Homo sapiens: one gene and its partners. The protein of the gene in region 2 interacts with the protein of the main gene of each other region in a pairwise test. Each region holds a gene or a part of one and is shown on either strand. Other genes may lie near its edges.

Region 1 (3,500 bases), on a different chromosome or scaffold from region 2:
AGGCAATCTCTGCGCAGAAGGAAGGTAGGGAACCGTCTCAGGACCCTGGAAATGTCCGGGATTTTGTAGACTCGTTTAGGGGGAAAAAACTAATCCAGCTGATATAAAAATCCCCAGCTAGTGCTCGCCCCAGAAACCATCAACAGGTCTGGTTAAAAACTGTTAGAGCCCGGCTTGGTGGCGCGCACCTGTGGTCCCAGCTACTCGGGAGGTTGAGGCGGGAGGATCGCTTGAGCCCAGGTGTTCGAGGCTGCGGTGAGCTACGATGGCGCCACTGCACTCCAGCCTGGGTGGCATAGCGAGACTTCGCTCTATAAAACACGTTGTAAGGAGCGTATTTTGAGGTCCTGTGGCTCCAAAGCGGGCATCCTATGGGGCCCGCCCAACCTCTCCACCGCCAGTAGGGCACGCGCTGGTCCCTTTAAATGTTCCCTTCGGGAGCCGAGGGACCGGTCCTTTTAGAGCGCGTCCGTCCAGAAACGCGGCTGCAGAAAGAGGGTTCCGGGGCCTCCGAGTCTACTGGTTGGCCTGGCAACGCCGCGTGCTCTTCCCAAGGGGAGGACGCGGGAGAAGCCGGGGCCTGAGTGCTCCAAGGCCCCGTGGGCTTCTTGGGTTTGTTGCCTCCGGCCGCTCATTAACTCAGGATGGCGTGGAAGACCTCGCCCGCCTCCCCTTCTGGGCCGCGGCTCCGCTTAGGTGAAGGCCTGTTTGGGCGTCCCCACCCTGGAGAGGGGCCGGGGTCTGGATTTTCAGAACTGCCACTCTTCTAGTGGTAAATGGATAACGAGCATTTGTAGGGTCTTTTATGATGTTTATCAGTAAATCAATTTGATGACGTAAATACTTCCACAAGCGCTTGTTAGGCACCTCACCGGGTTTGAATCACACACCTGCCTTTCTTAGTGGGGATTATTCCTCCCATTTGCCTTCAGGGTTAATTTTCTAAAGGGATTGGGACTGAAACCTAGCTCTTTTGGGGCCATTTGGCACTTTTCTCACTTAAGGACTAAAGAACTCTGACATTTGGAGTATTACAACCTGAAAGAGTTACCTATGAAAAAACAACACCTTATCCAAAATAGGAAGAGGATCACAATTACTAACTACAAAATTTGGGATTATAGTAGTGCTGGCTATTATCTCATTTAATCCTGAGGATGGCCCAGTTTGCTATCCCTATTTGTAGGATACAGTGAAGGGTGGAGTCTGACCCTGAGCCTAGCACAACTCTGAGATAAAATTCCACCCTGCCTTCCGGGTCCTGTTAGTGCCTTTTTTCCAGTGGAGAGGGACGGCTTGTTCTTTGGCCACAGCTTGACTGGCTTTTCTTTATACAAGCAAAGCCCAGCGTTACGTTTGCTTAACTAACGGCGTTCCTCTTTCCCCAGCGCTGGCGTCAATGCTCCCTTCCTCGGGCCATTGGAGACTCCGTTGCTTTTTAATGGCGGCAGCGGCTGCTGGGTGAGCAGCTGGAGGCCGGACAGTGTTCGTCCCATCCGGAGAGGATCGCTTTCTCCTGGCGTCACCAGCGCTGGGTTGGTGGGGGTAGCTTTTCCCTCTTTGCTCCTCCATTCTTGAAGAAAGAAGAAGATGCCACTGCCATTTGGGTTGAAACTGAAACGCACCCGGCGCTACACGGTGTCCAGCAAGAGTTGCCTGGTTGCCCGGATCCAACTGCTTAATAACGAGTTTGTGGAGTTCACCCTGTCCGTGGAGAGCACTGGCCAGGAAAGCCTCGAGGCCGTGGCCCAGAGGCTGGAGCTGCGGGAGGTAAGCCACCTAAAGACACTGCAGGCCAGGCGCGGGTGGCTCAAGCCTGTAATCCCAGCACTTTGAGAGGCCGAGGCTGGTGGATCACCTGAGGTCAGGAGTTCGAGCCTAGCCTGGCCAACATGGTGAAACCCTGTCTCTACTAAAAATACAAGGCCGGGCGCAGTGGCTCACACCTGTAATCCCAGCACTTTGGGAGGCCGAGGCGGGCGAATCACAAGGTCAGGAGTTCGAGACCAGCCTGGCCAATATGGTGAAACCCCATGTCTACTAAAAATACAAAAATTAGCCGGACGTGGTGGTGGGCGCCTGTAGGGTGTGGTGGCGGGCACCTGTCATCCTACCTACTCGGGAGGCTGAGACAGGAGAATCGCTTGAATGTGGGAGGCAGAGGCTGCAGTGAGCCGAGATCGCTCCACTGCACTCCAGCCTGGGCTACAGAGCGAGACACCTGCTCAAAAAAAAAAAAAAATTGGCTGGGCGTGGTGGTGGGTGCCTGTAATCGCAGCTACTGGGGAGGCTGAGGCAGGAGAATCACTTGTACCCAGGAGGTGGAGGTTGCAGTGAGCTGAGATCACAGCACTGCACTCCAGCCTGGGCAACAAACTCTGTCTCAAAAAAAATTAAAAATAAATAAAAAAAACACGACAGGCTTCTCTGGCCCGCATGCTGGCTGTGTGTTCTAGCCCACGGGCCACTCACTGTGTGTCCCTGGCTGGGATGTCTGAGTTGAGCCTGTAGTCCCCTCCTCATGAAGCAGGAATAGATTAGATTAAGAAGTCTCCCCTTGGGGTGCCCTATAAGAACTAATGGTTCTTATTTTGAATATGTTTATATTCCCCCTCTAAGGTAATCCAGAATCAAATGTGAATACACTTTGGGTTGTTCAAATTTCCATTTTCTAATATACCCCCAAAGGTCATCCTGATCTCTAGTACAGTTTACTGACTTCATTCTTTCTTTTTTGTTCATTTTAATTTTTTTAGAGTCAAGGTAGGTCTAGCTATGTTGCCCAGGTTGGTCTCAAATTCCTAGGCTCAAGCGATCCTCCCGCGATAGGCATGTGCCACCATGTCCGGCTCTTGACTTCGTTCTTTCAACATTCATTGAGTAAAATTCATTGACTATATTCTTACAGGCCAGATCGAGGTTCTAGAAACATACTGCCTGAACTCAGTTTGAGTTCTAGTTTCCTCACCATCTGCTTCTGTTACCTTGGGCAAGTTATGTGATATCTCTGAGCCCCAGTTCTCCATCTGAACCATGGGGATGACTGTGACACCTAATTCTCAGAGTAGCATAAGGTTGTAAGCTCTGCTAACTAGTCTATTAGAGTACCGATTGGGAGGTTTGCCCAGGAAACCCCTAATCTAGTTGGTAGGAAGTTATGGAGTACTCATGTATCCATATAATGTCTTAAATTTAAAATGTTATGCAAGGCCTGTGAAGAAAGGTCTCTAATTAAACCTAGGACCCTCCCTACCTTTGGCTACCTGGTTCTTGGGTAAGGGAAAGTTAGAGAAACTGGTTATTCCACCTAAAAAGTCAGGAATAGATGAACTTTGCTCCTGGTGACCATCCAATCACTTATATGATCACTCAGTACTGAAGATGCGTAAGTGCCAAGCACATACATACTTGGAAGCTCACCCTAGTGTTGTTGCCAGTAAGAAAACAGGCATGATGCATGCTGTGATAAGGGAAGTAGAGGGTGTGCTATAGGCCAGAGG
Region 2 (3,500 bases):
GCTGCTCAGGGGCCCCAGGCCCATCCAAAAGCCAAGGGGCTGTGGGAGCCCCCATGAGGCTACCTTCTGGCTGCCAGGCAGCCCAAGGGTATAGCCCTGTGAGACACCCTCCCCCAGGCAGCTGGAGAAGGCTGCGTGGTCCCAGGCAGAGCTGGCTGGACTCGGGTTGGGGCGGAGTCCTGCTCGGGGTGTAGAGGAGCACTGCCCGGGCTGGGCCTCACCATGACCTTTGGTGGCACGAAGCCTTCGGTGTCGCAGGCCACAGCCTCCAGGCCCTTCTCAGTGTCCCAGTCCAGGTCCTCGAAGGCCTCGTCCAGCGTGCAGTGGGAGCTCTGCAGGTCACTGCCTGGGAAGCAAGAGGGTCACCAGGACAGCAGGCCCGGCAGCACCTCCTATCCTGGCCATGGCCCCAAGGCCCACAGGGCCCGAAAGCCCCATCCCGGAGGGTCCTCCAAGCAAGTGGGAGGACCATACAGAGGTCGCCGCCAGCCCGGCAGGACAGGCCTGTGGACACCACTGGGCAGCGGCCTGATGTGGGAAGGGAGACCCTGGTGCGAGGCCGGTGGAAGGCGCGTGCAGGCATCAGCTCCAGCCAAGTCCGCCGGGCGCCTGGGAGGGAGTGGGGGCGGGCACCGCAGCCCCCTGCCCCTGAGGGCCTCTTGCGAGTGGCGGTGGGCACGGCCCTACAGGCGCCCCCGGCCAGCACTGCCGCGGCCGTTGTTAGCCCCGCCTTTGCGATCGGAGATGCTGAGGGCGTCCCCATCTCACAAACAGGTAAACCAAGATTCAGGAGTGCAAAAGCGCAGCCCAGCGGCCCTGGCAGGGGACCCCCAGCAGGGGTCTGGGGTCTAGGGGAGGCTCTGGGGAAGGTGGGCGGGCCTGTGCGGGGCACCTACTGTCTCGGGAGTCGTGGGAAGTGTCGGCTTTCATGGGGGTGGGGTCGCTCCAGGACCGGCTGAAGCTCCGCTCGCGCCGCTCAGCGAACGCTGCAGAGAGCAAAACCCGCATTAGCGAGCGGGTGGGGCGGGGCCTCGGGAGTCTCAGACCCCAGGCGAGGGGACCACAGGGGCCCTGGGCAGAGGAGGAAGCTAATGTGGGTGGGGTCTAAGGCACATGAAGCAGACACGGACCAGAGGCTCGGTTGGTTCAGGGGCAGGATCTGAGAACACTGGGGCAGGGCCAGAGGCGGAGTCTGGGAAGGGAGGAGCCTGGGCCGGGCTGGGGGCGTGGCTGGGAGGGGAGGAGCCTGGGCCGGGCTGGGGGCGTGGCTGGGAGGGGAGGAGCCTGGGCCGGGCTGGGGGCGTGGCTGGGAGGGGAGGAGCCTGGGCCGGGCTGGGGGCGTGGCTGGGAGGGGAGGAGCCTGGGCCGGGCTGGGGGCGTGGCTGGGAGGGGAGGAGCCTGGGCCGGGCTGGGGAAGTGGCTGGAAGGGGAGGAGCCTGAGGCAGGGCCCGATTGGGGTTGGGGCGGGGGTCGTTCTTATCGCAGCTAGCAGCAAGCAAAGCCCCAACCAGCCAAGCGCAACGCCGCCCCCCCACCCCCGCCGCACGGGGTCTTACTCTGGGCCTTCACCCTCCGGCTGCCGACCATGCGCAGGTGTTTGCGGAAGTTCCTGGGGGAGGAAGCCAGGGGCTGAAGAGGGCCGTGAGAGGGTGACGGCAGCCCCTGCCCACCTAGCCCCCGTCGGGTCATGGCTCTACTCTCACCCCTTCGGTGTGGGAAGCCAGTGCTCTCCCTGGCTCCTGGCACCACCTCCCACCCAAAGGCAAATCCCACCCAGTGCTCTTCCCGCGACAGCCTTCCAGGGCTCCCCTTCAACTCCAGAACAAAGGTGCAGTGCCTGGCGCTCTGGATCAAGTCTCCTCCCGAGCTGCATTCCCAGGCTCTGACCTTCCGTCCTCGCCCGGGACTTACGCCCTGAGCCTCCACGCCCATGTGGCAGAGGATCCAGCCTGCCTGCGCTGCAGCAGAGCGGGGCTCCTGTCTGCACCACCCCATGGCGGGCTGGGGGCCTGCAGGAGCCCCCTCTCCTGCTCTGTGTCCTTGAGCCACCTCAGGGGCAGGTCCTCTCCTCCACCAAACTTTGGACCCTGCCAAGGCCCAACATCCAAAACGGGCAAAAAAGCTTCCCAGACACATCTGTGTGATTGGAGTGGGGGAGGGGGGCCTTGCTGCTGGCCCCAGCCCAGACAGAGACACGTGCCCTCGGAGTGCAGGACTGAGGGTGAGATGCTTTCCTGCAGCCCGGGCCACATGGCCTCTCCTGCCTGCCACGTCCCCAGAGCAGGGCCAGGCCAGTGGTCGCCACCACCCTTCCCCCATCAGGTCTGCCAGGGCCGAGGGGGCCCAGGCCAGGCCAGCACAGACCAGAGATGGACCCTGGTGGCGAGTGGCTGGCAGGCCCTACCTCTGGATTACAGACGCGGAATCATTCTCCCGTTTCCGGCGCTTCCTCTCCGCGTAGCCCCTGAACACCCTGGGAAACCACCGCGAGTCAGCACTGCCCTTGGCCGGAGGCAGGAGGGACACAGACGTCGGGACAGTGGTGCGAGCAGAGGGCCCAGCAGGGCGTCTGGGGCACGGGGCCCGGCAGAGGAGTCCCAGCCTGCCTCACCTGTCGAGGCCCAGCTCCCAGCAGGCCCTGCTGCGACCTCGGTGCCCGCTGGGAGCCAGGCCCGCAGAGAGCGGCACTCCCTCAAGACCCAGGTCCCTGGCCTGCCCAAACCTATTTGGGGTGGGAGGGTCTCCCCAGGGACAACAGCTGTGCCCTTAGGCACCAAGTCATACAGGTACTTACGAGATGCTGAAGCCAGGGCCAGAAGGGATGGCGTGAGAGAGAAGACACAGTGAGCTCAACCCCGGGCCTCCCCTCAGCCCCCACCCGGTCCCTACAGTTCCCTTCTTGTCACTGACCCAATAGGTCCCTCACAGGTAACCCAGCCACCAGCAGGATGCTGGCTACACTGCTGGCCAGCCCTGAATGGGCAACGGAAGCTGATGTCACTGCAGCCCATGCCACAAGGACTGGTTGCTGAGACCAGGCAGCCTGAGGCTGGGTGTGGGGTGGACTCCCCCGGGCAGGACACTTCTTTGGTGTGGGGACCAATGCAGCAAAGGGAACTTCCCTGGAAGGAATCCCAGAACAGAAAAGCCAAATGTATGTCAAGACAGAGAGGAGCAGGTCCCTGCGGGGACCCTGAAACTGTGATGACCTATGGCACGTATGAAACAGAAGTAGGCTTCTATTTGGGGTTTGAGGGAGGGCAGACACAGGCTGAGGAGAGTGGATAGGAGCAGGAGAACCTGCCACACCCCACACCCCACTGAGAGCTCATCAGCTGCAGCCCTGGGCCAGGTCCCCTGACTGTGTGTGTGTGGGGGGGGGGGCTGGGCACCAGCCATGGGAGGGGAAGAGCAGTCAGCCCTGGCCTCCCTGGCAGGCCTGGCACAGCATAGGCACGTGGGTCTGTTCAGAAGCAGCCCCCCTGGTAGGCCCAGAGACT
Region 3 (3,500 bases), on a different chromosome or scaffold from region 2:
CCCAGGCTGGAGTGCAACGGTACGATCTCTGCTCACTGCAACCTCCACCTCCCAGGTTCAAGTGATTCTTCTGCCTCAGCCTCCCGAGTAGCTGGGATTACAGGTTCGTGCCATCACGCCCGGCTAATTTTCTGTATTTTTAGTAGAGACAGCGTTTTGCCCTGTTGCCCAGGCTGGTCTCGAACACCTGACCTGAAGTGATCCACCTGCCTCAGCCTCCCAAAGTGCTGGGATTATAGGTGTGAGCCACCACACCCAGCTTCCTTTTCTAATATTGGAAATGCTTCTATTTTGTTGTCTGTGCATCTCTAACTCACATATAAAAGAATGCTGGTTGTAAATTGCACAAGAAAGAGAATGGCTTTAGAGAAGCAATAGAAATTTTCCTTGCTACTAACATATCTCCCTTGGAGGGCTCCAGGGGGTACATGCTGTCAGGTGAGTGGCCGTTCACTCATCTGCTTCTTTTTTTGAGACGTCTCGCTCTGTAGCCCAGGCTGGAGTGCAGTGATGCTACCTCCACTCGCTGCAAGCTCCGCCTCCCGGGTTCACTCCATTCTCCTGCCTCAGCCTCCTGAGTAGCTGGGACTACAGGTGCCCGCCGCCGTGCCTGGCTAATTTTTTGTATTTTTAGTAGAGACGAGGTTTCACCATGTTAGCCAGGATGGTCTCCATCTCCTGACCTCATGATCCGCCGCCTCGGCCTCCCAAAGTGCTGGGATTACAGGCGTGAGCCACCGAGCCCAGCCCATTCATCTGCTTCTTATGAGCCCCTGCTCAGCTCTCTCACCTGGTAGTGCACAAAGCGCATGTCTCGGGAGTAGAGTGCTGCGGTCCACTGGCAGCTGTGGCCCAGGGGGATGGCTCTGGCCAGCTGCTCCAGCGTCCTCTGGTGGTGGGGGTAGAACTTGTGGGCCAAGGTCAGATGCAGCTGTTTGGTGCAAGGCTTCACGGAGCAGTCTGTGAAATCAGGGAAACACAGAGGGTGCCAGGACACCGTTACCTAAATGTCTCCTTCCTCCGACCTCCATGCTTCCTCCACAAGGCAAGGGCTCTCAGAACTCAGAGCTCATTTGGCCCGCTCAGAACTCACATCATAAAGGAGATGGCTGGATCCCTGTAGATTTTTCCAGGAAGTAGGAAAGAGGACGATATGGAGATGTGGGTTCAGGGTCTCGGGGGCCTATCGGTTTGCAGGCTAGCTGCCCGAATGCACGATTCAGATGCACAGAGTAAACGGCTCCTCCATTCCCCGGGGTGTGCACGTTACCCAGTGGCCTGGACTTGCAGGCCCGAGCTCCAGTTCAACGGCTTTTTGTTTAATCGTAGAGTTTCAAGAAGAAAACTCTTTAGGCAACAAAACTATAAAACACACAGTGTCTTTAAGGTTCACCTTGTTTTGGTGAAGCAGGAAGTCCTGGGAGTGGTTGAGCCTCAGGTCTTTTTGGGTGTCCTCTGCCCCTGTGGCCCTAGCCCTCCCTGGTCCTGCCAGGGGCTCTCAGGTCAGTCTGAGCAGAGCAGCTGGCATCACCAAAGCAGCCAGGATCTGATTTCAGTTGAGCCACAAAGTATTTTATGTCCTAGGGAGGCGGTCTGTGTCTTGACGGGAACAACACAAACTTTGGTGTCAGATAGACCTAGTTTTAGGCTGCACTTTGCCCCCTTTTGCAGGGTGACCTTGACTGAGCCTCTGGGCCTGCCCAATTTCTGCTTCAGCAGCATCTGCTGGAGGACGGCAGCGCCTGCTCGCCAAGGCTGCAGTGGGAAATCAGCCTCCTAACCTAAAGTTTCCTGCTAGAGACGCCGTGTCGGTGCACAGACGTACCCTGCCCCCACTCCACGGCAGGGCACTTACAAACAGGATCTGCTCACCCCCTAAAAAAGGTCAAGGTTGATGCAAGCCTTTCCCTGGAGCCCCGAAGTTGGGGCTCACTGCTGTCTCCCACGTGAGAGGTGAGCCTTTAGAGGCAAATGGGAAGCTCCCACGGTCTCTAGGAAAGCTGGGGCACTGAGGCTGCACAGCCCAGAGCAGCATGAGTGTGTAGGTGGTGGGGAGCAGCATGAGTGTGTAGGTGGTGGGGAAATTCCTTTCCTGACTTTTGTTTTTAGCAGTCGGGGAGGACCGCCTTGCCATGCGAGTGAGTGTGGCCTGGGAAAGACCCACTGCAGGTTGCTGACGTCAGAGTGAGTCACACCGACTTCTGAACGGGTCCTTGCGTTTCCTTCTCTCTGCGGACCTGTGCCTATGGGCACGTTTCACTGGGGAGGACCAACGCGGGCAAGGGGGCCTCATGCATTTGCCCCAAGAGGGACCTCGGCCACTTCAGAGCAGTGACTGGTCACTCATCACTGAGAGAGTCCCCTCCACCCCCTCGGTGTCAGGCTGAGAGCATGGGCCATGGAAGGGCAGGACACAGCCTGCTTAGGGTCGGGGCGTAGATGTGAGGTCAACGCTGGCTCCCACAGGAAGTGGGGCTGCCCAGCATGAACCCAGGCAGCATGGAGCAGGACAGAGGTGGGTTCAGGTCCCTGCTCCGCCAGCCTGGTTAGGGGACTAGATTGGTTTCAAACAACAGAAATGTATTGCCTCCCATTTCTGGAGACTAGAGGTTCAAAATCAAGGTGTTGGCAGGGCTGTGCTCTCCCCGAAAGCTCCTGGGAAGGGTCCTTCCTGGCTTCTTCCAGTTTCCGGTGGCCCCAGGCGTCCCTTGGCTTGTGGCTACATCACTCCAGTCTCTGCCTCAGTCGGCACATGGCTTCTCTGTGTCTCTGTGCGGCCTCTACCCTTACGGGAACCCACCCTAATGCAGTGTGACCTCCTCCCAACCAATCGCATCTGCACAGGCCCTATTCCCAAGTGAGGTCACATTCCCAAGTTCCTGGTGGACAAACATTTTTAGGGGACACCGCTCTACACACCACAGGACCTTGGGCAGGCCCTTCACCCTTTGCAGCCTCAGTCTTCCTGTTTTTAAGATGCTGCCAATGAGGTTCACTGGGGGAGGGCCTGGGTGTGAAAGAGCCATCATTTGATAAAGGATACTAATCCACAAAGACCGGGGGCGACTTTCTAATTATTCAGCAGATTCGATCTCCAGACTCACAAGCTGCCATCCAAGTGGAAGCCCAGGATTCAGGGATGGATTTACAGGCCAGGATCTGTGCTTCATACATGTCTGAGCACAGACAGACACGCTCCCAGAGAGAGAAAGTGGGGAGCCCTCCCACCAAGGCACTGCGGCCTCGTCAGATTTTAGAGTCGGCAAATCTCAGCAATACTGAGTGCCTTCTGTGTCCCGGGAACTATGGCAGGATGGGCCACAGACTCAGGCAACATTGTTCTTGAAGAGTGAGAGCCCTCATTGTTTTGTAGAGAAAGAAAAAGAGACAGAGAGAGTGGACATGACTTGATTAAGGTCATGCCACTCATCAGGGACACAGAAAAAAATCACATCTTCTGACGTCAAGTCCACAATCCTTTCCACTAAACCCCAATGGTA
Region 4 (3,052 bases), about 13 Mb from region 2:
CCTTCCCAGACTGGATTTGGGTGAATAAATATACGTAATTTAATGAAGCCAACAGCCCCATTCTACCCCCCCCAAGAATTGCAGTGGTTCTGAAGAGGGACTGAGGAGGGGAGAGCTGTGGAGGGGAGGACTGTGTCACTTTGGTCAAAGTCTGTATCCAAAGGCTGTATGACCCAGAGGAGCTTCTGGAGTGTGAATGGGGCCCTAACCTTTAACAGAATGCAAGCTGCAGTCACATGTGCTGAAAAGGAAAGAAAAGCATTTTTGCCCTTCAGAGAAGCTCTGTTATTGGTTATGGGGAACCAAATTATACCATCTATTTGCTGATTGATTGCTCCCCATTTCTGACGTTTAGTTCTTTAAAGAAAGCTTGTCCATGCAGCAGTGATTCTGCAGCACAGCCAACCCAGCATCAGGAGACGTGACCAGGCACATCTGAGGCCCCACCCTCAAAAGATTCCAAGTGCAATCCCACAAACTGAAGACTTTTAAAGCCTAGATCAATTATTAAATGTTTGGCACTTTATTAAATTAATTAAATAAGCTCCAAAATTAATTACATACAAATCAAAGGAATAAGAAACAATAAATAGTTTATTCAGCAAACACCTCTCTGCAGCAGCCGGCAGCTCTGAGGCCGAGGCTGGCGTCCTGTGGCAGAGGGCCTGTGGATTGCCATGCTCGCTCCCAGGGGTGGCTCAACAGGGACACAGGTCTACTCCTTCCACATCGGGTTTCCGGAACAACAACTGAACTCTCATTCATTACCATCCCATTCATTACCATTTTTTTTTACATACACGAAACACACCGCAATGTATAGACTAATAAGCCAAGAGCTTTATTGATGCAGCAGGCACTTTACAATGAGCCCAAGAGTGTCCACCTTCTCTGGGAAGACAGGATGTCTGTACAAACTCTTGGGTTTTTTTCCACTTCAAAAACACAAGCTCTCCCGTTTACCACAGCCCTTGGATCTGCACCTGCCCAAACCATCCCTCCCCCAGTGCACACAGGTGCATCTGACCAACACCAGCCGCCACGCTGGTAGACCGTCAAAATGTCAGTTCTGCAGTACTCGGAGACAAAGGCATAGACTATCAGATCCTAAACAGGATTTAGGAAACAGACGATTTTCCCCTCCACCTTGAAAATAAAATACATTTCAGCAGATACATGTCCTGAAATAGTTTACTTGGGAGTTCCTAGGAAGATGGTCCATTGTCAATCCCTTCTTCACCAGCCTGGGCATCCAGAATTCTTCTCAAGGTAACATGAGTCTTTTTATTTTTTTTAAACAGTCTTTCTTGCTGTAAGAACTCTTATAATGGAGCCTAGTCCTCCTACTGCTAAGGCCTGTGGGGGCAGGAAAAGAAAACGTGTCAGATGAGACCTGGCTGGCCAAGGGGAGCCTGGCTTGCCAGAGACAGGGGGGACATTCCCTGACCTAGATCCCGTCACAGATCCTCGAAAGAGGATTCCTGAGATAGAGCACATTCTAGGGAAGGAGCCCTGTCCTGGAGCCGTGGGGTCCCGAGAGCTGTTGGCTCTTGGGCAGAACTGGCTTGAGAACACTGTCACCAGCACACAAAGCAGAGCCCTCGAGCTTCCCTTTTGAGATGGGGTCTCACTCTGTTGCCCAGATCACAGCTCACTGCACAGCCTTGATGTCCTGGGTTGAAGCCATCCTCCTGAGTAGCTGGGACCACAGGTGTGCACCACCAGGCCCGGCTAATTTATTTTTTTTGAGACGGAGTTTCGCTCTTGTCACCCAGGCTGGAGTGCAATGGCACGATCTCGGCTCACTGCAACCCTGCCTCCCCAGTTCAAGCGCTTCTCCTGCCTCAGCCTCCCGAGCAGCTGGGATTACAGGCGCCCGCCACCACCCCCGGCTAATTTTTGTATTTTTAGTAGAGACGGGGTTTCACCATGTTGCCCAGGCTGGTCTTGAGCTCCTGACCTCAGGTCATCCGCCTGCCTCCGTCTCCCAAAATGCTGGGATTACAGGCGTGAGCCCACCGCACCCAGCCTAGTTTATTTTTTTGTAGAGATGGGTTCTCACTACATTGCCTGGGCTGTTCTTGAACTCCTGGGCTCCAGCAATCCTCCTGCCTCAGCCTCCCAAAGTGCTGAGTTTACAGATGCACACAAGCCCACTGACTGCCGCCCGCTGAGGTGACTGGCAGGCACCAAGCTGCCTTAAAGGGACGAGAGGTCCTGGCCTCCCCATCATACAGAGGACTTGTTTACTTCCTTGAGCCCAGGAGAGGGGAGGCCAAGGAGGTGCAGCACACCCGCCAGCAGACCTAAGGCCACAACCACAGCCCAGCACCCACACCACCTTAAGGACTGGCCCACTGTAAAACCCCTCTCTTCCAACTCAACACTGAGCCTCTGAGGAAGGCAGGCAGGTTAGTAACTCCTGGTCTGCTTTAATGGTGGGCGTGCTTACTGCGGCACTAGGGGTGTGCAGGGGAGGGTGTGGGAGGCAGCCCCAGTGGTACAGGCACGACACAGGCTTGCCAAAGGCCTTGCTCTCACACGGACCCAAGCGAAGGGCAGACACAGCTCTTTCTGCTTCACCTGGACGAAGGCCATATTAAGTGAGGTCAAGGTTTCTGCCCACTGCTCACTCTGGCCTGCTAAGGCTGAGGCCAGGGCAGGAAGCCCTTAGAGCTGGCTGGAGGACTCTATTTCTAAGAACCCCCAACAGCTGCCTCCACCACTGCAAGTATCATGAAGCCCCAACCAACCAGCAGGCCCCCTTCCTACCTAGACTCCCTGACCACCTTACTATGCCATGTTATCTGCCCACATGTCCTGTACCAAGGGCACCCTGTCTTGCCTGACATAAATCGGCAGCTAAAAAGCAAAAAAGTAACTGCAATTACCACAGACAGCAGGTCCCTACCAGGAGCTTCCTTGGGAGAGGGAAGTGATGACATGTCCCAGGTTGGGGCTCGTCCTCTGACCCCACACGCCTATCAGACCGTCCTACGTTTGTTCTGGAAAATCTGGCCTGCTGATCGAACCCCAAGGCAAGCCAGGTGGC

The links. The genes of interacting proteins can lie anywhere in the genome.
Region 1: the proteins of NSMF (region 2) and PTPN21 interact in binary tests that used the Homo sapiens proteins (3 or more experiments, as listed by UniProt).
Region 3: the proteins of NSMF (region 2) and UBASH3A interact in binary tests that used the Homo sapiens proteins (3 or more experiments, as listed by UniProt).
Region 4: the proteins of NSMF (region 2) and ARPC5L interact in binary tests that used the Homo sapiens proteins (3 or more experiments, as listed by UniProt).

Annotation. Positions count from the first base shown.
Region 1 is NC_000014.9:88,548,508-88,552,007, reverse strand, and holds part of PTPN21 (tyrosine-protein phosphatase non-receptor type 21), read left to right. Parts: intron 1-455; exon of another isoform or gene 456-772; intron 773-1,388; 5' UTR 1,389-1,590; coding exon 1,591-1,770; intron 1,771-3,500.
Region 2 is NC_000009.12:137,452,835-137,456,334, forward strand, and holds part of NSMF (NMDA receptor synaptonuclear signaling and neuronal migration factor), read right to left. Parts: intron 2,801-3,500; coding exon 2,795-2,800; intron 2,474-2,794; coding exon 2,405-2,473; intron 2,396-2,404; exon of another isoform or gene 2,253-2,395; coding exon of another isoform or gene 1,912-2,252; intron 1,610-1,911; coding exon 1,557-1,609; intron 987-1,556; coding exon 897-986; intron 347-896; coding exon 222-346; intron 1-221. UniProt on the Homo sapiens protein: Couples NMDA-sensitive glutamate receptor signaling to the nucleus and triggers long-lasting changes in the cytoarchitecture of dendrites and spine synapse processes. Part of the cAMP response element-binding protein (CREB) shut-off signaling pathway.
Region 3 is NC_000021.9:42,413,902-42,417,401, reverse strand, and holds part of UBASH3A (ubiquitin-associated and SH3 domain-containing protein A), read right to left. Parts: exon of another isoform or gene 1,094-3,500; intron 961-1,093; coding exon 791-960; intron 1-790. UniProt on the Homo sapiens protein: Interferes with CBL-mediated down-regulation and degradation of receptor-type tyrosine kinases. Promotes accumulation of activated target receptors, such as T-cell receptors, EGFR and PDGFRB, on the cell surface.
Region 4 is NC_000009.12:124,875,182-124,878,233, reverse strand, and holds the end of ARPC5L (actin-related protein 2/3 complex subunit 5-like protein), read right to left. Parts: intron 1,357-3,052; coding exon 1,294-1,356; 3' UTR 501-1,293; downstream 1-500. UniProt on the Homo sapiens protein: May function as component of the Arp2/3 complex which is involved in regulation of actin polymerization and together with an activating nucleation-promoting factor (NPF) mediates the formation of branched actin networks.